5 separate regions of the Homo sapiens genome follow, and regions 1, 3, 4 and 5 are each linked to region 2. The links come from fine-mapping of genetic effects on gene expression. A gene starts in region 2. Each other region holds a variant in brackets. All regions are shown on one strand. Distances are between the middles of the regions.

Region 1 (4,117 bases), 67 kb before region 2:
ATCTATAGGAGAGAAAATGACACTGGAGAGAGACCTCACAACTCAGACAGAAAGGAGGAGCCAGACAACAAAACTGGGAAAACTGGTTACTCCATGAAAAACATCATCATAATAATAACAGAAATACCATGAATTTCAGATGCATCAATCATAGAACTGATTCGGAATTGGAAAAGCTGAAATGAATTATTAGAATAAAATATCAGAGAACATCTTTGTGACTTTGGAAAAGGGCAGACATTCTACAACAAGGAACAAGAGTATGAACTAAATGAAAAGATGAGTAGATCTGAACAAACCAAACATTACAACTTTTGCGTGACAAACAGGCCACAAACAAACTTAGACAAGCAACTGACTGGAATGTTTGCAATGTACAAAGTGGAAAGATAAGAAACTGACCTTTTCTGAGGACAAATGTCATTAGAAATTGGCAAAAGTTCTGCCTAATATCACAGATAAGATTTAGTATTCATAATATAGTGAAGTCTCAGAAATTTAAAAAAATGATTTTTAAATTTATTAATTTTCAAAATGTTATTTATTTTTTTCTTTTTAGAGATGAGGTCTCACTGTCACCCAGGCTGGAGTGCAGTGGCATGATCATAGCTCACTGCAGCCTCAAATTTACAGGCTGAAGCAATCCTCCTGCCTCAGCCTCTAGGGTAGCTGGGACCATTGGCGCGTGCCACTGTGCAGGCCAATTTTTAAATTTTTTGTAGAAATGGGGTCTTGTTTTGTTGCCCAGGCTGGTCTTGAACTCCCGGTTTCGATCGATTCTCCCGCCTCGGCGTCCCAAAATGCTGGGATTACAAGCATAAGCCACCTCACCACGCCCTAAAATAATCTAATTTTTAAATAAGCAATGAACAAAGGATTTGAAAGGCTACTTTGCTAAGTAAACAGAAATGCTGCAGGCAGCTTTTTTGTATCTTTTTAGATGTTCAACCTCATGTAATCACCAGATGAATGAAAAACATAATAAAAAGGAGACATCACTTTTCATCCATCAACTTGCAAAAACTGAAAAGCTGAAAAATCTCAAGTGAGAGGGTCAGTGACATTCCATGCAAGTAGGCTCCACCAAAAGCGTTTTCCTGTGAGGAGCCTGAACCTTCTCCAGCCCAGCTTACCCTCCGGCGTCTGAGCTGGTGTGTGGCAGGCCCCTTCTCGTGGCTTTGCCTGAACACTCGGCTCCACAGCTGACAGTCTGCAAACCACACATCAGTTCCCTTGTCAGACGAGGTTTCCAGACTCATGTTTAAGAATCCTGGCTCCCGCTGCAGCAGTTACAGCCCAGAGCTGTCTGGCTTGCAAACGCCCAACATTTTTATATGTTGTCTTGGAACTGCTATTCTTCACAACGTCTCCACGAGCCTTGGGAATCCAGGCCACTGTCTTACAGGGTTGTCAGAATCTTTTATACAACACTCGAAACATATTGACCAAGTTATAAACAAGCCTGTGAGTCACCCTCTGCTTCTCCTAGCATCAACTGTCAAGTTTGCCAGCCTCTCTGTGTCCCAGTAACAGGCTCCACAAGGCAGGAGGGGACTGATTAACCCACAGCGGGGGACCGCCAGACAAGGCCTGCCCAATGCCCACATTCACTGCTCAACCCCATGACCCCATTGTTGCCTTGTTAGTTTTAAATAACTACCATGTTCTCCTGAAGTCCTAATACTGCACCTGGCCCAAAGCAAAAAACACACACCTACCGACCTGCCCGTCTATCTCCAAACCTTTATCTGTAATCACTTAGTGTATTGCTGACTCCGATGGACTCAAAGACAGGACACAAAACTCTCATCTTTCTCTCCTAGCAGGTGCTTAATAATGTTGGGTTAACTGCGTGGAACAACCCATTACCAAATCTTTCTTACAAAACTCCCTTCATCCCACTTTCCCTCTGGTCTCCTTTCTCAGCTTTCTCCTTGCTTCTTTTCTCCTTTCTCCTTGCTTCCTTTCTCAACTCTCATCTCCTTTAGGCCTTCCCTACAGCTGTCTCTCTTGTTGCAGCACTTCTTTATTCTGTGCCATCCTGTCTCATTCCATGATAGTCTCGCTGATTCCACTATTAGATCCCAGAAAACCATCTCTCAAATGGGGAGCATTTATGCGTGGTCTGACCCTGGATCCTCCCTGGATCTACCTTCTTCCAGGGACCAAGTCCCACAAAACTTGTAACTTTTGGGGCCGAATCTACTCAATTCCAGAATGCCGAGACTCACCCATAACAGCACCTTCCTCTGTCCTCTGTGAAATACAACCATTTTGGGATATC[A/G]ATGGCAACTGGACCATGTTAGGCCACCCAAGGGAACTCAGTGACATGTAGTGAGAACGGGTTGCCTCAGAGTCCTAACTGATGGTATGAGCACACCAGCAAGGTTTTGAGGAGTGTAAGAAAAACCACAACTGGACACTTAACCCCATTGCTCAATGTCATTTCTATCTTTTCTTTCCCTTACTTAAAGTTCCAAGAGTAGAGATAACAGGGCCCTTACATGTTAACATAACAGTTTTTAAAAGATGAAATGTTTTCTTTCTACTTAACCACATATGAAATTTGCATTTAACTAGGAGGTTAAAATGTGAAAGTCAGGGACCTGAAAGTCCAAGAATGAGCCAGAAAAGGAACGGTAGAAATACTGGCCTGCATCACAGAATATGCCCCTAACCCTTCTCCATCTATCATCACCATCAGTATCATCACGATCAGCATCATCATCACAATCGTTACCATTGCCATTGTTACTATCACCATCAACTACACTATCACTATCACCATCACCAGTCACAGCACTATCATTGCTGTCATCAACATCATCATCACCATCATTGTCACCATTCATCAACATCGTCACCATCACCATCATCATGTCAACATAATCACCAGTGCCATGGTCACCATCAACCACACCATCACCATCATCATCTCCATCAATTACACCATCACCACTCACCATCACCATCATGATCATCTTGACCATCACCATCTTCACCAACATCATACCATCATCATCACCATCCCCATCAACACCATCATCACTAATATACCATCATCATCAATCACGCCACCACCCACCATCACCATCATCGTTACCATCATCACCATCAATTACAACATCATTATCGGCATACCATTGCCACCCTCATCACCATCACTAACAATATCATTATCACCATCGTCATTACTGACACCATTGAACACTTTCTGGAGCTCCTCAGTGTTCTTTGTGTTTCATGTGTATTTACCCTGCTATTCCTCACAATGACTCTAAGCAGAAAGAGGCAGAGCAGGAATGCTGGCAGGCTGTCTCCACCATCCACCTCACCTCCACCACGCTCTGCTGCTTCCCCAGAAATAAGCCAAAGAAAGAACACCTCTACCAAAACGTCACATCACTGTGATGCATGATGACTTACATAATCTATGTAAAGGGAATACCTTGTTGTTTCCAGGTAGCATGTACACAAAGGGATCAAAATGCAAATGTATATGACATATGTGAATTATTAGTAGAGAACACTATGAAATTGTCTATTTGGGGAGTGGTCTCTATATAGTCTATTGAGAAAGAGAAAATCCTAGAGATTAACTACTCTAATGTACAAATTGTAAAGATCACGGCACTGAGGAACAGAAATAGGGTGCAACTGTCCAGGGCCACAGCTTCCTGTGGAGCAGCCCATCCCTGACTCTGCCAGGCTCCCATCTACACTTGCAGTGACTGCCAGGACCCCATCTCAACTCAGTGAGCAGAGTCCTCACATCCTGCCTCTGTCCCATCTAAACTTGCAGTGACTGCCAGGACCCCATCTCAACTCAGTGAGCAGCATCCTCCCATCCTGCCTCTGCCTTGTCTACACCTGCAGTGACTATCAGGACCCCATCTCAACTCAATGAGCTGCAGCATCCCCACATCCTGCCTCTACCCCGTTCTACACCCACAGTGACTGTGCCCGGCTCCCAGCTCCAACTCAGTAAGCAGCACCCCCTACCCTGCTAATGCCCCATCTACACATGCGGCAGCACGTAAGGAGATGGGCCAGGTCCGTCCTCCTCCTACTACGCTGACAAGAGCAATGGCTAAAATGATTTCCTGTGAAGATACAC
Region 2 (4,117 bases):
TTTGCATTCAGGAATAAGTAGTGCCCTGGGGCTACTAGTTTTTCTATCTTGGTAGTTTTTTAAAGACATAATTCAGCTGAGCTGCTGATAGCTATGGCAGCCTCAGCTGAGGAATCGCTGTCTGGACATGCATTAGAATTCAGTCGACAGACGCGCAGCAGCAGCCAGGAACAGGGGTCTGGGACCCTAGAGTCCTGTCCCAGAATCCCAGGCTGCACTACCACCATGTTTCATTTCATCTCGGCCAAGTTACTTAGCCTTCCTTTGCCTCAGTTTACTCGTCTGTAAAATGGGGTAATCATAATCCCAACTCCCTCCAAGGAATGTAATTTGGGTGAAATGAAATGAATGCATGCAAAGCATTTAGCACAGGCAAACACTCAATCGGTATGCCTGTTACTTTGTCTTCGGGGTCACCATTACTATTCCTAAGGTCAGGAGTCGGGCTTGCTGCCAGTTCCTCCTGTCAATTCCCTGTGTACACACCCCCCACCCCCTGTGCTACCACACCCCCACCAGGACCCAGTGCACCTCCATCTCTGTGTAATGGCCTTGCCCCTCCACCCTCCAGCTGCAGCGACTCCCCACCCCCTCCCTGGCCCTCAAGGCCTCAGCACAGAAAAGCCTTTCTTAATACTTGTTGATTGATTTGCAAATATAACCTCACAGGCCCCAAAGAGAGAAGAACCAGAATCACCAGAACAAGTAAACCTCATTCAAAAGGGAAAGCATGAAAGCAATTTAAAAAATTAATATGCACAGACCAAAGCCTCAAGAAAATCTAAAATGTCAAAGGGTTGGTTAGTTCAGAAGGGCCATGCAATATTAATACAATGAGTTCTGCATTCATACTTTTCAGTATATTTTCAGAGTCCTCCATGATCATGCATTCAAATAGTGAAAAAAATGGGGGGAAAGCCAACCCGGAAGATCAAAGTGTGTGAATGCGCCCCAAGGAAGCCTGGGGGCTTCCCAGGGGGTTGTGACCACCCTCAGTAGTGCTCTCTGCTGGCCCCACACCCTGATGGCGCTTTGAGTTTTTCAACCACGCTGGAGTTCGGGTCATCTGCTGACACTGTCTGGAGAATGCCTGAGGAACGCCTGAATCTCTTCCCGCCACAGACACTCAAATCACTCCAAGCAAAGGACCCGGGACTCACATGTCAGGCCGCTGCACAGCACCGACACAGAGACCCCTGGGCCGTCCGGGACCCTCCCTCCTCCTGCTTGTCAGCGACAGCTCCCGCGTGCCAGGAGGCACATGCCACACAGCTGGCCCCCAGCCTGGGACAGCACCCCCCACCCCAGAATATCCCCCCACCCCGAGGTCCCGTCCTTCAGGGAAAAAAAGGAAGCGCGTAAAGACCCCCTGCCTCCCACCCACCAAAGGGAAAGGGAAAGAGACGCACTGGAGAGCTTGCCTAGAAAAAGTAGGAGAAGGGTCTTGAGCCTGCCCATTGAAGCCCCTAGCTGCGCTCTCCACCTGGAGTCTCGAGACGGAGTCCTAGGGAGCAAAGTCCGCTCGGTCCCGACAGCGACTGCGACATAGCTGCTCCGGTCTCTGCCCTCAGTCCAGGGCGCCCGGGCGCCACGGGTCCCACTCGAGTGGTCCTGCGCCCCAGCCAGTCCCCAAACCCAGCCAGTCAGCGCCCCCGTCCCCGGACTCCGGCGAAGCTGGCCCGCGCCCCAGCCCCTGTCCTGGGACTCCTGCCGAGCCCCCGCCCCCCACGCGCCGCAAACCCCGTACCCGCGCGCACCAAACCCCTTGCCCGTGCGCCCCCAACCGGGTCCCCGCGCTCCCTAACCTGGGTTCTCCCGTGACCCCATCCCCGCGCCCTGAGCTCCCGTACCCCGCGCTCCCCGAACTCTGTCTCCGCGCTCCCCGAACTCAGTCCCCGCGCCCCAGCTCCAGATCTCTGTGCTCCCCAAGCCTCGTTCCTGCGCCCGGAGCGCGAAAGCCCGCGCCGGGCCCGAAACAAAGAGGACCGCGGCGCGTGGCCGCGTTTCCTCCTTCCCCGGCCCCAGTACCTGGGGGAGCCTGAGGCGCGGTCCGGCAGGGCGATGGCCGCAACGAGGCTGGGCTCCGAGTAGCGCGCGGGCGGGCCCGTCCTCCTGGCTGGCTGCCGGCGCCCGCGGCAGGGCCCCCTCGAGGCGGCGCGGGCAATCGCCACGGCCGGCCCCCGCGCCCGCGCCCCGAGCCTGGCGGGTCACCTGGCCTCATCACCCTAACAATGCAGCGCGCCTCCAGGCGCCCTTCACCGGGGTCCCCCGCCCTGCCGAGGTGCGCCCTGGGACCTCCCTTCGCTGGCCGCAGAGAGGACCTGGAATTATCAGACCCATTGAGCAGCCCAGGCTCCAAGTGGTCTGGAGGCTTGCAGGTTCCGCCGGGCCGGTGTTAGAGTACCTGGGGAGGCGGGTTCGGATCCTGGTTCCTGCACAACCAGTTCATTCTTTCATTCAGCGCCTGTGATTAAGGTGCTCTCCGGGAGCAAGACCTACCCTCCCTCCTGTAGCTCATAGCCTAGTGGGAGTCGCGCATACATAAAGGAGCACAGCCGCTCCGGAAAGCCTAGGGTGCCGTAGAAGCCCCTGAAATACCCAGCTAATGAAGGGAGGAGGTCAGGGAAGTCTTTAGAAGTCACATGACTTCTTAAAATGCGCCGGGACAAATGAGCAGAATTTAGGCAAGCCAGGGGAAACCAGAAAAACGATCCCGAGCAGAGAGATTCTCAGAGGAGGAAAGGCCTATAGGTTGTCCATCCTGACTGTCCATCCCTGAGATTCAGATGGCCCTGAACTCAGTCGCTTAGCCTCAGTTTCCCCATTTGTGAGATCGGGGGAATGGAAAAAGTTTGCAGAAATCAGAAGTGCTCTTCCTCCAGGGAGGTCACAAGAGAAATTTCATCAGCGGTTTGTCCTGTGGTCCTTTCCAGGAAAACATCCTCCCCGCCAGCCTCTCACAGAAGAGACCTAGATTTCATCTGCCACGTGGAGCAGGCGGTCTCAGAATCCCACCCGGAGCAGGGTCCAGGGCAAGTCTTGGAGGACAGTCACCAAGAACTGCTTTGGATTCGGGAACAGAGCTGCCTAACCCATCCGCAGCCCTGGGGTCCTGCCCTGTTCCTCTGGCCCCTTCAGGGCAGCGGGGGAAGCAGGGAAAACAGCCTGTCAGAGATGGCAGAGAAACCGAGCAAGAATAATTATCCTGGAAAAGACTTTCAGAAGTAACCACCAGAAACTTCGAGTCCCCAGATCCAAACAGCTGAGAATGTGGGGCCTGAGCCACGCTCTGACTCCACTCCCACCACATGAGGAGAAACAAGAGCTGCTTTTCTGGAAGACTTGAACAACCCCTGCTGTGCTCTGGAAGGTAGTGTCATTTCTCATCCCCAGACTGATCTGGGTATTTATTCCCAGGCAAAGGCTTCATGAGCACCATGCCCCAGCCCCTAGAGATGAGGCAGGCATTTTTCCTACACTCTAGGAGACACCAGGTCAAGAGTCAATGAGATGAGTCAAGGGGTGCCAGGGAAGATGCCATAGGGGAAGGTGGGGAGGAGGTCACAGCCAGCTGGGTTAGGAATGGGGGTGAGGCTGGTACTGTTACGATCTCCTTTGTCCTGATAAGGAAACAGGATCTGACATTCTAGGCAACTTGTTCAAGGTCACCCACCTGGTCAGGCGAAGAAAGTGGGAGGGATCAGGACTATCTGGCCTTGAGGCTACTCTTAACTTCTTCCCAGCTGCCTGCCCACACCATCCACTCTGTGCAATTGGACTAAATCATCACTTTGCTCAACCCTCTCTTCCATTAAGACCGTGGTGATCTTCACACCCAGAGCCAATTACGTGCTATTCTGTGCATCACAGAAACCATCATAATGCCAAAAACCATGTTGGCTGAATGACAACATGAATTTGAGCTTCTTGCAGTGTTAGGGCACCCATTTACAGGAGGTGACACTGTTGTTTGTCTGAGAGCTCACAGTCAGGAAAACTCAGTGCAGTGCTGGGGTTCTCTGACCCTTTGTCAGGGAGCCTCTTCTAAAATCTCTCCAAACTGCTACCCACACCCAAGCCAGATGGCCCCACCGGCCACACTGCCCTTGTTGGGGTA
Region 3 (4,117 bases), 86 kb after region 2:
GGATTACAGGTGTGAGCCACCGCGCCCGGCCACGAGTGCTGCTCTGTTTTCAAGGAGCCGCCTCTGCCAGCTGCTCCTCTCCAGGCCTTCTCCAACGATCTGCCCACTAAAAGGTGAAAACAACAAAAACAAAAACAAATTTTCCCACAAAATCAATTTCTTACATCACAAATTTAATGAGCATGATTATAGCTTGACTGATGGAAAATAAGTAAGCAGGGTCTTCTACCATAATTCATTAGCTAATGCATGTTATGCATGCATGTATATATGTGTGCCCACTTTGTTCCAGACAGGATTCAAAATCACTTACAAAGGAAAATACGATACTTTAGTTAATTGATTCTCTGGCTTTTCTTGGAAATTTGCATTCTTCTTTAGAATATAAAGTGCTGGATTGGCAGCAGAAGAAAACGAGAACAGAACCCCCCTTACCTGCTGCAGGGTTTGGACAGGCTGCTAGGCCTCAGGTTCTCCTGCTGAATGAACCCTTTGTACCATCTGTGCATAACTGACCGGGGCCAGGAGGAACTATGGAAATGCTGCCTCAGCCCGAATGTCAATTCTACATTCCAGCAGAATGTCTCAAACATCACATGTACTTTAAGGGAATTCAGTTTTCAACCAGCTCCTACATGACATCCACCTGCCTTAGCCTCCCAAAGTGCTGGGATTGCAGGCATAAGCCACCGCGCCAGGCCGAGTGAGCCTTCTTGCACGGTACGTATATTCAGATACAATGAAGGTAGGTTCATGATAAAAAAAAATGTTGTTTTTCTTTTCTTGCTATTTTTTTTTTGTCATTGGCATATCAACTTTCAGAATGACCTAAACCTTCAAGAATCATACTGTTAAAAGTCTGTGAAAAATATGAGCCATTCCTGGAATAGTAAGAGTTCAGTTCATGGCAGCGGCTGTGATGATTATTCAGACAGTGCAGTTATGGACTCTAAAGTGCTGTAATCAAACATGGTTAACTGCAAAGGCGGACCTAGTCCTGCTGCAGTCCTCTGGATTGGTAACTCCAAGGAGCCCAAGGGACCAGTTCTTCTGGTTTCCCTATGTGGAGACCCGGGGGCCTTGGCCCTTGGCTGAAGGTGGGACATTGATCTCAGCCTTACAGCACAGGCTTTCCCTGACTGGCCTACAAGGACACAAGCCATGTTGGTCATTCTCACCCATGAGTCCCTTTTTGATGAGTACTGGGGCCTAAGGCTGAGGGCCGTGACACTTCCTAGTGAGTAGGACCTCAGCAGCATGTACTGGTCCTATAAAGCCGACCTGCTGGCTCTGTCCTGCAGGGGCCCTAACATGTACCACGCAAGAAGTCTCACTCGGCCGGGTATGGTGGCTCATGCCTGTAATCCCAGCACTTTGGGAGGCCAAGGAGGGTGGGTCACTTGAGGTCAGAAGTTCGAGACCAGCCTGTTCAACATGGCGAAACCCTGTCTCTACGAAAAATACAAAAAAATTAGCTGGGCATAGTGGTGCATACCTCTAGTCCCAGCTACTCCAGCCTGGGTGACAGAGTGAGACTCTGTCCAAAAAAAAAAAGAAGTCTCACTCAAGGAGGTTGCAGCATTATGGTGGCAGGATGAGGTAACCGAGTTAAAGCTGGGATCAGCCTTCCCTGTTGGAGGTACACAGGCCCTGTAGGACCCCTGGTCTTGAGTCCTTCTCCATTGTCAAACTCAGATACCCTCTTTAAGGCCCAAGTCAAACTTTACCTTAGGGAGAAGGGGCACAGATCTTCCTAATACCTGAGTGTGAGGCAGACCCTCCCCTTTGCTGCTCCCACAGGGCTTTGTGCTGCCCTCAGGAGCATTCAGCCCTGGAGTCTGCAGAGCTGCTGTGCGTGTAGCCTCGCTCTCTTGGTTCATGCAGGCATGTAGCCGACCCTCAGCCGAAACACAGAGCCCATTTTCTCCATAAAGAAAAGGTGAGTTGGCCAGGCGCAGTGGCTCATGCCTGTAATCTCAGCACTTTGGGAGGCCGAGGTGGGCGAATCACGAGGTCAGGAGTTCGAGACCAGCCTGGCCAGCATGGTGAAACCCCATCCCTACCAAAAATACAAAATGTTAGCTGGGTGTGGTGGCAGGCGCCTATAATCCCAGCTACTCGGGAGGCTGAGGCAGGAGAATCACTTGAACCCGGGAGGCAGAGGTTGCAGTGAGCTGAGATTGCACCACTGCACTCCAGCCTGGGCGACAGTGCGA[G/A]ACTCCAGCTCAAAAAAAAAAAAAAAAAAAAAAAAAAGAGTGAGTCAAATGGATGAATGAATGTAGCAAAGGCCAGGAGTAGGCTGTGGGAATTAAGGTTGCCTTTCAGGATCTTTGTGTGAGGAAGAGGACATCAGGGAGTGGGCTCCAGGGACCACTGAACCTGGGGACCGAGGAAGGGGCAGGGTTTGCCGAAAAGTGAGAGCTGCCCTGGCCTTGCCCAGCTGCGCAAGAGGGAGGCTCCAAGCTCTATCTGAGCAGTAGCAAGGAAAGGGCTGGACTGAGCCAATGGGGGTCAGCCTTCTGGCTTTGTTTCACTGTGCAGTTGTTGAGTGCCTAATGTACACCAGCAACAATTCAGGCCCTTGGGGTGCAGCAATAGGAGATGCTCCTGGAGCCAAGAGGATACCGACGGATCCCCTCCAGGCCAAGTAGTACCTGCAGCTAGGTCCATTCAACTAAACCAGATGAGTGTCATCTAGGTCTGTTTGTCCCTAGGGCATAGCAGATGCTCAATAAATACTTGCTTAATGAATAAAAGTCTCCTAATAAAAATAGTAGTAGGAGCCAACATCATTATTGAGTGCTTCTCTGTATCAGGCATTGTTCTAAACTTCACATGAACTCAATCTTCTTAACAGCTTTCATGATGAAGGCCGTAGGATCCCAACTTTACCAGTGAGAAAACAGAGGCATGGAAAGCTAGAGGAATTCAGCAAAGGTTATGTAGGAACTATCTTAAGGAGTGTGGGAGTGAATTCCAAACCTAGCGTGCTTTATCCCGGGCTTGGGTCTGCCCTCGAACCACAGGAGGTAGAAAAAAGGGCACACAGTCTTCATTTTCCGAGGATGTCATAGCAGGTGCTGCAGGCTGGGTGGCTGAACCCTCAGAAATGAATTTCCTCGCAGTCCTGGAGGCAGCAAGGCAGAGACTAAGGTGTTGGCAGGTTTGGTTTCTCCTGAGGCATCTCTCCTCGGATGGTAGATAGCTGTCTCCTCCCTCTTCCCTAAGGATGTGTGTGTAAGCCTGTGTCCCAATCTCCTCTTGTTATAAGGACACCAGTCATTGGATTAAGGCCCACCGTAATGCCTCATTTTACCTTAATTTCCTGGTAAAGGCCCTATCTCCAAAGAAGGTCACATCCTGAGATTCTGGTTAGGACTTCAGTCTTGGAATTTTGGGTAACACAATTCAGCTGGTGACATTGACACAGCCTGGGGCTGCCCAGTTTTCCCAGAAGGGGCAGCAGGAATGGGTCAAAAACCCATCACTCATCAAGAAAAACCAGTTCATGTGTTGAGGAACCGTCTTGTCTGCCGTCCTTCAGAATGAGTGCGCAGTTGTTTTGCTGTTTTCTTGGGAACCAGCTGTGGAACACTGCGCTTCCCTTTCCTTTCTTTTCAAGAACCTTGGTGCCCACCTGGCCTCCTGGAGGACACCTTTGTGCAGAGGCTGCCAGAGATGGAACATAGAGATGGGGGAGGGGAGCAGGTGATGCTGGCCCCTGTTGAAAGAAAGTGGGCAAGAGCAGGGGTAGTTATTTCTCCTCTTACAGAAAGGGCTTGCTGAGTTAGGCTTCATGTGGCATTGTGTTCTTTTGAACGTCACTTAAGGCATACATGAAGCGTGTGCACATGACACAGCCCAGTGGAGCCAGGGAGTGACTCAGCCTGCTGCCCAACACCCACTGCAAGTTGTTCCTGTGGCTGCCTCTAGCTGTTCCCCAATCTGAAATTTGTTTTTCGTTTTCCTTCACTTAAAAAAACTTGTTGGCCGGGCTCGGTGGCTCACACCTGTCATCTCAGCACTTTGAAAGGCCAACGAGGGAGGACTGCTTGAGCCCAGGAGTTTGAGACCAGCCTGGGCAACATAGAGAGACCCTGTCTCTACTAAAAGATAA
Region 4 (4,117 bases), 250 kb before region 2:
AGGCCCAGGAAGGGTGACTGTGACCAGGATGGCACTCCCAAGGGTGGGTCCCATTCCCTCCGTGGAACTGTGGGCTCAGTGACTCGGAGCAAACCCACAGGGATGGGCAGCAGGGAGGAGGAGGCAGGGCATGCTGCTTCTGTGCCCGTGTCACAGCCATGACTGGGACAATCCTGAGTGTGAATCTACAGATTTAAGCATCTTCTGGAGATCTGTTTATCTTTCCTCTCTTGCTTCTTTCTCCTCAGCTGCAGTGCCAGGGACTAAAGTGATTTCAAAGGTGGGCTCCAGGTGGCAGCAAGTCCACTGAGGAAAAAACATTTAAAAATTCTTCCCGGACAGTCTGCTCCCCCCACCCAAACACCCAGAGATCCCCGGGGACGACAGGACCTGGACTGTCCACATGTTGACTCTGCTACAGCCAGGACCACCCACTGCACCTTAGCAAAATCAAGCAGGGGTGCAAATCAGACACCTGGAAGAGGACAGCCCACCCCACCAGCCGGCAATGCCAGGTCTCCTCTCAGAAACACAGGTGCTGGTCTCACGCAGCTCCCACTCTGCGGGCTCAGGCCCTTTGCAGGCATGATGCACTCAGCTCCCTGGAGCTGAGAGACTGTCTCTCTCCTTCCACTTACCCATCAGAAAACAAAACAAACTTTTATCCAGATCCTTCTCTGTGTTAGATGCCAGGAGTGTGATGAAGACTCTGCTCTGGAAATGTCCTGAGGCTGAGGGAGGGAGGGTGACACCAAATCCCAACCCAGGTCCCACTGGGAAGTCACATCCTTCAAATGCAGGTGAGAGCGAGGCAGCAGAAACAAAAGGACGGAGGGAAGGTGAAGCAAGGAGGGAGAGGAGGAACAGAGGGAGAGAAGGGGCAACAGGAGTTTCCCTTTCGGAGGAAGACACAAGCAGACTTGGTTGCCAGAGGGAGGTGAGAAAAGGGGCATTAAACCAAGGAGAAGGGAGGAGCTGGGGCGCCCAGAGAAGACACACGGGAAGGGATGAGCAAGTTTAAAGGTCTCGCAGCCTCCATAGGGGGCACGTCCTTCCTGAGACACGACCTGATCAGCTGGATGGAATTCTCCCTTAACACCCTCCCACCAGCCCGCACTGCCTGTCCACCAGCCTCACGGGTCCTACAGGGGCTGCATCCCATCACCTCCCACATCTCTGTCCCACCGGACTCGGGCGAACCTTATGTGTGCACACAATAAGAGGAACCCTGGACCAGCCCTACTCCCAGCGATCAGGTGATCTGCAGGTACCTTTGAGGACTGGGCACATGACTTAGCAAAGGAACTTCAGATGCTTTATGTGAAAGCTGCCTCAAAGACGGTGCCACTCCTGCAAACTGTGAGTCTCTCTACTACATGCAAGGCAGTTCTCGAAGGCCTGGGAAGGATAGTCAGGGTGACCCACAGGTTCTGTTTTCAGCAACAGGCTCTGCCCCAATAAAACAAAACTAAGAGGGATACTAGAATGCCTCCGAGGGACCAGGCACTGCAGACTGAGATCCTCAGCTTTATTCGAATGTACTTGTTTGTTCCTGAGAATTACGTGCTGGCCAGCACCCCAGGGCGAGCTCTACTCTGGGGTTC[T/C]TGAGACTCAAGTGGAGTGCTCACTTGGGCATTGCGGAGAAGGAATTAAAAACAAACACAAAACACAAACCCTCCACAACCTCAGCGACACTGGGACTTCACAGTAACCCAATCTCATGCTCCTCTGGAAAAATCAAATTCCAGTGAGCTGCTCACACCATCCCTCTGCCAGGTGACACATGGAGACCTGACCTCTGACGCCCATCGCACACTTGGTTGGCCCTGAAGCATCAGAAAAGTTTACTTTCATTCCAAATGATGGAATTCTCACTTGCCTGGCTTTCAGGATTTTTTGTAAACTTGTTCATTTGCTCTTTCTCTACATGTGTGCATATATAAGTGCATGGCCTGTAAGAAGTGCTCAGAAAGTGGCAAATGCCTCAATCTAGGCAGAGCCATAAATACCTGCACACATAACACACATATGTACCATATAACATGTCTACATATGTGTGTCACTAAAATGTGATAGAATTTAAACAGACAACAAGGTGGTTCCTGGCCTAAGTAGGACAGCCTGGCCAATGCCTATCTGTTGAGGAGGTACACTAATCTGGGGGGCACCTTGGTAATGCCCTCAAAGGCTCTGATGGGGCAGGCCCGGGCCAGTAACAAATGTCAAGAAGCAGACTACATATTCCTTCTTCAGCCCTCTCAGTGACTCAAGACATCTGACCCTTCTGCAAGTCTCACAATCCCAGACCCTCCCAAGTGTGTCAAAAAGAATGGGTGCATTTTGGCCAGGAATCACAGCCTGAAGGGACAGTGGTAACAGGTGCTTCAGAGAAAATGCCCAGGCATTTTACCTCTTGACGCCCAGTGCTCTTGGGACACCACTGTGAGGCAGGCTGCTGTCTAGAGGGGATGGAACTGTGGGGAGGTGGATTACAAGGTGAGGGCCTTCGGAGGAAAGTAAAAATGCAAGGGATACCAGGTAAATGCTTCCAGCAGGGAAACATCCTTGCACATTTTATATGCTGGGGCTTCATAAGCATTTTCTTCCAAGCCATTCCCAGTTCTAAGAGGCATCCTGCTGGGCTGAACTGCCTTTTCCTGTTCAAAGCAGCGAGGAGGAGACAAGCCCAGGCTCAGGCCCGAGCTGTGGATTCCGGATTCCACACCAGCCACAGGCTGCTTCAGAAGGGACCCCAGCCCGCGAGCTGCCCCAGGGCCAGGACCGCCTCCCTTCCTCAATCCCGGGATGGAGCACAATTCTCATAGACAATGGGGCTCAGAAAATGCTTGAATAAGGAAGTGCATTTTGAATTTAAAAAATGAAATTTTAAGACAAATTTTTGTTACACTACCGTATTCACAGGCTGAAATTTTCATTTTTAAGAGACTTCCCCCAACACCATGCATGGCACACATATTCTTATTTTACTTAGATTTAAAAGATGCTTTCAGAGGTTATGCAAACTGTTCAAGATCACAGAGCTACAGACGGGCAGGACCAGAGCCACATCTGTCACCAAGCCCCAGGGCCAGCATCAAATCCTGTTAGCAGCACTTCAGAATAACTTCTACATGCTGAGGGTCAAGAACAGTCCACCAGGAGAGGAGGGGGTAATGGAATGAGCTGATAAATAAATTTAGAAAAGCAGATTCCTCTAAACCCAAAGTGAGCAAACGAGAACATTCAGCATGGTAGAGAAGTCTGCAGGCTGACATGGGGACACTTCCAAGCTGGCCTGCTCCGCGGATGAGGTGTCAGCACAGAAAGCCAACACCTTTTTTTTTTTTAGCTTCATCACCCTCAAATGAATTCATGTTCTCATCTCAAAAGACCCCTAAAGGCACATTCACAGGCCAGCACTTTAGGCTGACCTCCACGAACCCAGCACTGATGTTTACTTTTAAATATAATTTAGAAGCAGTCAACTTTTCTTTTTCATGTTGTTCATCTGGGGCAGGGGTTGGAGGAGGCTGCGATGTTTGCTAATCCACACCAGTTTTTTGGGGTCACCATGCACCAGTGTGCATTCTTTGGCACTAATTGGAATGCAAAGTACATCACAGGCATGTATCCAGGCATGTCTATTCCTATGCACACTTACATATGCCTACGTACCTGAATATAAACCCATGGAGAAATCCATATAGGAATGCATGTGCTTTTGAGGCTCTAGAAAATCCAAAGTAAACAAGGGCCTCTATAAATGTCACACATATTCACATTCAGTACATGCCTTTGTCCCTATTATAAACATTCTCATTCAGAGCTCATAAAAATTCAACAGAAAAGGGAGTCGAGTACAGGAAAGAAAGAAGAAGATTGGTAAAAGCATTGTATCTGTCAATTTTTGAAGGATGACAGCTTTTTCAATAAAAATAAAGCATTGTGTCAAAATAATCTCTCTGTCTCTGTCTTCCTCTTGTCCTCTTCTCACGCTGTGTCTCTCTATCAGTCCCTGGGGCTCTGAAACTATTTCAATAAGAAAGTGCATTCTGAATTAAAAAACTAAATTTTAAGACAAATTTTTGTTACACTAGCATATTCATAGGCTGAAATC
Region 5 (4,117 bases), 94 kb after region 2:
GATGAAAAATGGAGCAACCCGGGCCAGGTGCAGTGGCTTACACCTGTAATCCCAGTACTTTGGGAGGCCAAGGCAGGTGGATCACAAGGTCAGGAGATCGAGACCATCCTGGCTAACATGGTGAAACCACGTCTCTACTAAAAATACAAAAAATTAGCCTGACATGGTGGCACACACCTGTAATCCCAGCTACTTGGGAGGCTGAGGCAGGAGAATCGCTTGAACCTGGGAGGTGGAGGTTGCAGTAAGCCGAGACTGCGCCACTGCACTCCAGCCTGGGCGACAGAGTGAGACTCCGTCTCAAAAAAAAAAAAAAAAAAAAAAAGAAAGAAAAGAAAAAGAAAAATGGAGCAACCGAGGCTCAGAGGGTCTAAGGTGCTGGACGACGGCAACTGCAGGGGCAGACTCCGATTCCCAGCCTGGTGCATCCACCACTGGCCTTCATAGAGATTCTTGGGGGTCTGCGGGGGCCTGCTTTATGCCAGGCCCTGGAGGTATGGCCAGGAACACGACCCACTAGGCTCTGCCTCATGAGCTTACATTCTAGAAGTGGGAGATGGAGGTAATCAGTCCATATGGACGGGGTCAAAGGCCTCTCTGAAGATGCGGACTTTCCTAACACTCGCACCAGCCAGAGGACAAAGCATTCTGGGGGTCTGGGCTGGGAGGACACACGAAGTCCTTACAGTGCCAAAAAGCTTGGTCCCTCCCAGGCTGGACAAAAGCTCATGGTGGTTGGGGCAAGCAGGAGGGGAGAGAGGCAGAGCCAGGCTCTGAGCAGCAGGCAGGCGCCCCACCTCACTGAGCTAGGGCCTATGGGGCACGGTGAGGAGCTGGGTTTTAGTTAGAAGTCAGGTGGAAGCTGCTGGAGGATTTTAGGCAGGGGAATCATAGGGTATTATCAGCTCTACAAACAGAGAATTCAGGTGTTGTGTGGAGAAGGGATTCTGGGGGGCAAATGTGAAGGAAGAGAGGCCAGGTAGAAAAGTGATCAGAGCAGAGCAGAAAACACACCTGCATTCACACGCTCATGCACACACACATACACACATGCACACATACTCTCACACACATGCACACATACCCTCACAATGCTCTCACACAATTGTGCACACATACACACATGCACACATACTCTCACAATGCTCTCACATGCCCCACAGACACACACTCTCTTACAGACTCACACATTCACATGCACTCTCATGTACTCACACTCCCTCACACACACAAACTTTTATACATATTAGCATACACACTCAGACAAACATACACACTCAAGCACATCCCAGTGGTGACTGATCAGTGCAGTCACTGTGCACATTGTAACACAGGAGAGAAACGGCAGCTTTAAGGGATTGTGAGCCAAAGCAATCCTCCTGCCTTGGCCTCCCTAAAAGCTGGGATTACAAGCATGAGCCACCACACTTGGCCTCAATGCAAAATTTTTTTTGTTTTTTGAGACAGAGTCTCTTTCTGTCACCCAGGCCGGGGTGCAGTGGCGTGATCTTGGCTCACTGCAACCTCCACCTCCCTGGTTCAAGTGGTTCTCCTGCCTCAGCCTCCTGAGTAGCTGGGATTACAGGCACCCAC[C/G]ACCACACCTGGCTAATTTTTGTATTTTTAGTAGAGACGGGTTTTCACCATATTGGCCAGGCTGGTCTTGAACTCCTGACCTTGCAATCCGCCCACCTCAGCCTCCCAAAGTGCTGGGATTATAGGCGTGAGCCACCGTGCCTGGCCACCTCAGTGCAATTCTTAAATGACACTGAAAATTGTTAGCTTAGTATGATGTTTTTCCAGCCATACTGGGAATACTGAATTGACTTAATTTATGCATAGGAGGCAACATGCTGCCTGAAGAAAAAGTATCCTAAACCCTAATGGTTCAAGTCATCGGGTATTTCCAAGTTCACCAAGAAATTCAAACCCTGTCCTTCTTTACCATTTGAGGGAAAGCTGACACAGATCTAAATCTTGATGTCTTTCATGTGTACTGCCAACAAGTAAGGCAGCACAGAAGAGTAAAAATGCCTCAGTTTCTCAAATCTTGCTCTTGCGTTCAAATCTTGACTTTGCTGTCTCAGTCTGCCTGTGTATTGAATGGGTGCAATAACAGTTATCGCCCATTCTTTTTTTTTTTTTTTTTTTTTTTTTTTTGAGACAGAGTCTCACTCTGTTGCCTAGGCTGGAGTGCAGTGGCGCAATCTCGGCTCACTGCAAGCTCTGCCTCCCGGGTTCATGCCATTCTTCTGCCTCAGCCTTGCGAGTAGCTGGGACTACAGGCGCCCGCCACCACGCCCAGCTAATTTTTTGTGCTTTTAGTAGAGACGGGGTTTCACTGTGTTAGCCAGGATGGTTTCAATCTCCTGACCTCGTGATCTGCCCACCTCAGGCTCCTAAAGTACTGGGATTACAGGCATGAGCCAATGAGCCACTGCACCTGGCCCAGTTATAGCCTATTCTTTTTTTTTTTTTTTTTTTTGAGACGGAGTCTTGATGTCACCCAGGCTGGAGTGCAGTGGTGCGATCTCGGCTCACTGCAGGCTCCACCCTCTAGGGTTCATGCCATTCTCCTGCCTCAGCAGCTGGGACTACAGGCACCCGCCACCTCGCCTGGCTAATTTTTTGTATTTTTAGTAGAGATGGGGTTTCACCGTGTTAGCCAGGATGGTCTCGATCTCCTGACCTCGTAATCCACCCACCTCGGCCTCCCAAAGTGCTGGGATTACAGGAGTGAGCCACCGCGCCTGGCCAGTTATAGCCCATTCTTATAGCACTGAAGGAATTGTGCAATGGCTATGTAACCCCTGGGTCAAGTGCCTGATTCAAGATGGTGGAAAAACATTCCTTTCCATTCTATAGAACACATATGTATTGGATGTCTTTTCTGTGCTGGGTATAGTGCTTGGTGCTTAGGGAAAAAGCACTAGAGAGACAGATGTGGTTTGTGCTTGTGACAGTTTCATGTGTCAACTTGACTGGGCTAAGGGATACCTAGGTAATTGGTAAAACATTAGTTCTGGTGTGTCTGTGAGGGTGTTTGCAGAAAAGATTAGCATTTGAATTTATAGATGGAGTGAAGCAGATCCACTGCAAACTTCTCTACGCTCTCCTCCAAACCACATGGCACTCCTCTGTGCCGTGAGGTTTTGTCATGTTCGTTATCTGTGGATGTCATAGCTCTGCAGTTACCTGCTATGGTTTGGAAATGGGCTTATTCATCTCTACCATCGGTGCAGTGGCTTTGGGAGATGGGGCCTAGCGGGAGGTGTTTGGGTCATGGGGATGGATCCCTCGTGAATGTCTTGGTACTGTTCTTGTGGTGATGAGTTCTCACTCTGATGAGCCTGGATAATTTCCCACAGAATGAATTAGTTCCCGCAAAAGTTGACTGTTAAACAGACAGAATGCTTCTTGCATTTTGTTTCTTCAGGTGTGTCTTCTTGCCCTTTGACCTTCTTCATCATGTATGTTATGATGCAGCACAAAAGCTCTCACCAGAAACCAGGGCCATGCTCTTGAACTTCTCAGCCTGCAGAACTGTGAGCTAAATAAACCTCTTTTCTTTATACATTACCCAGACTCAAGTATTCTGTTTTAGCGACACAAAATAGACTATGATGGAAGATTGGTATTGAGCAGTGGGGTCTTTTTATAAAGGTACTTGAAAATGTGGAAGCCAGTGTGGAACTGGGAAATGGCCACAGGTTGAAAGAGTTTGGAGGAGCTGGCTAGAAAAGCACTGCATTGCCCTGAAGTGGGCATTAAGGATAATTCTGGTGAGGGCCCAAAGAAGACAAAGAGATTAGGGTAAGTTTGGAATTTCTTGGAGACTAGTTAAGTTATTGTGACCAAAATGTTTATAGAATTATGGACAGTAAAGGCCATTCTGATAAGGTCACAGATGGAAATGGGAAGTATCTATTTGGAAACTGGAACAAAGGTCACACTTGTTACAAATATTTGTATTTATGCCCTAAGGCTTTATGGAAGGTTGAACTTAAGAGGGATGACCTAAGATAATCTGGCGGATGAAATTTCTAAGCAGCAAATCACTCAAGAAGTGGTGTGGTTACTTTCAACAGCTTATGCTCAGTTATGGCAGCAAAAGAATGAC

Direction of the effects. Positions count from the first base shown, and alleles are read on the strand shown. Sizes are in standard deviations (SD) of each study's normalised expression. Not every link is listed here.
For the expression in monocytes after Pam3CSK4 of the gene that starts at base 2,089 in region 2, allele A in region 1 goes with a higher level than allele G (moderate effect, 0.59 SD a copy in Quach 2016).
In carriers of allele T in region 4, the expression in thyroid of the gene that starts at base 2,089 in region 2 tends to be higher than with C alone (small effect, 0.26 SD a copy in GTEx).

Evidence for each region. PIP is the estimated chance that this variant, and not a neighbour inherited with it, causes the effect. A credible set is the group of variants that fine-mapping cannot tell apart.
Region 1: its variant is the best candidate, but not a certain one, in a credible set for the expression of TNS3 in monocytes after Pam3CSK4 (Quach 2016, PIP 0.87).
Region 3: its variant is the best candidate, but not a certain one, in a credible set for the expression of TNS3 in blood mononuclear cells (TOPMed, PIP 0.59).
Region 4: its variant is the best candidate, but not a certain one, in a credible set for the expression of TNS3 in thyroid (GTEx, PIP 0.83).
Region 5: its variant is the best candidate, but not a certain one, in a credible set for the expression of TNS3 in whole blood (INTERVAL, PIP 0.72).

What each region holds. Positions count from the first base shown.
Region 1 is chr7:47,512,632-47,516,748 of GRCh38, forward strand. All of the region lies in intron 2 of TNS3 (tensin 3), which reads right to left. Among named protein-coding and RNA genes, the nearest start is that of SNORD151, 50 kb to the left of the region's middle. The variant A/G (reference allele first, on the strand shown) is at 2,285.
Region 2 is chr7:47,580,023-47,584,139 of GRCh38, forward strand. It overlaps TNS3 (tensin 3), which reads right to left and starts at 2,089. Exons shown (of 31, transcript NM_022748.12): 1 at 2,029-2,089. RefSeq lists enhancers at 1,425-1,962, 1,963-2,500.
Region 3 is chr7:47,665,804-47,669,920 of GRCh38, forward strand. No RefSeq gene overlaps it. Among named protein-coding and RNA genes, the nearest start is that of LINC02902, 13 kb to the left of the region's middle. The variant G/A (reference allele first, on the strand shown) is at 2,217.
Region 4 is chr7:47,329,772-47,333,888 of GRCh38, forward strand. The region is part of intron 20 of TNS3 (tensin 3); the gene reads right to left. Among named protein-coding and RNA genes, the nearest start is that of SNORD151, 130 kb to the right of the region's middle. The variant T/C (reference allele first, on the strand shown) is at 1,605.
Region 5 is chr7:47,673,772-47,677,888 of GRCh38, forward strand. No RefSeq gene overlaps it. Among named protein-coding and RNA genes, the nearest start is that of LINC02902, 21 kb to the left of the region's middle. The variant C/G (reference allele first, on the strand shown) is at 1,594.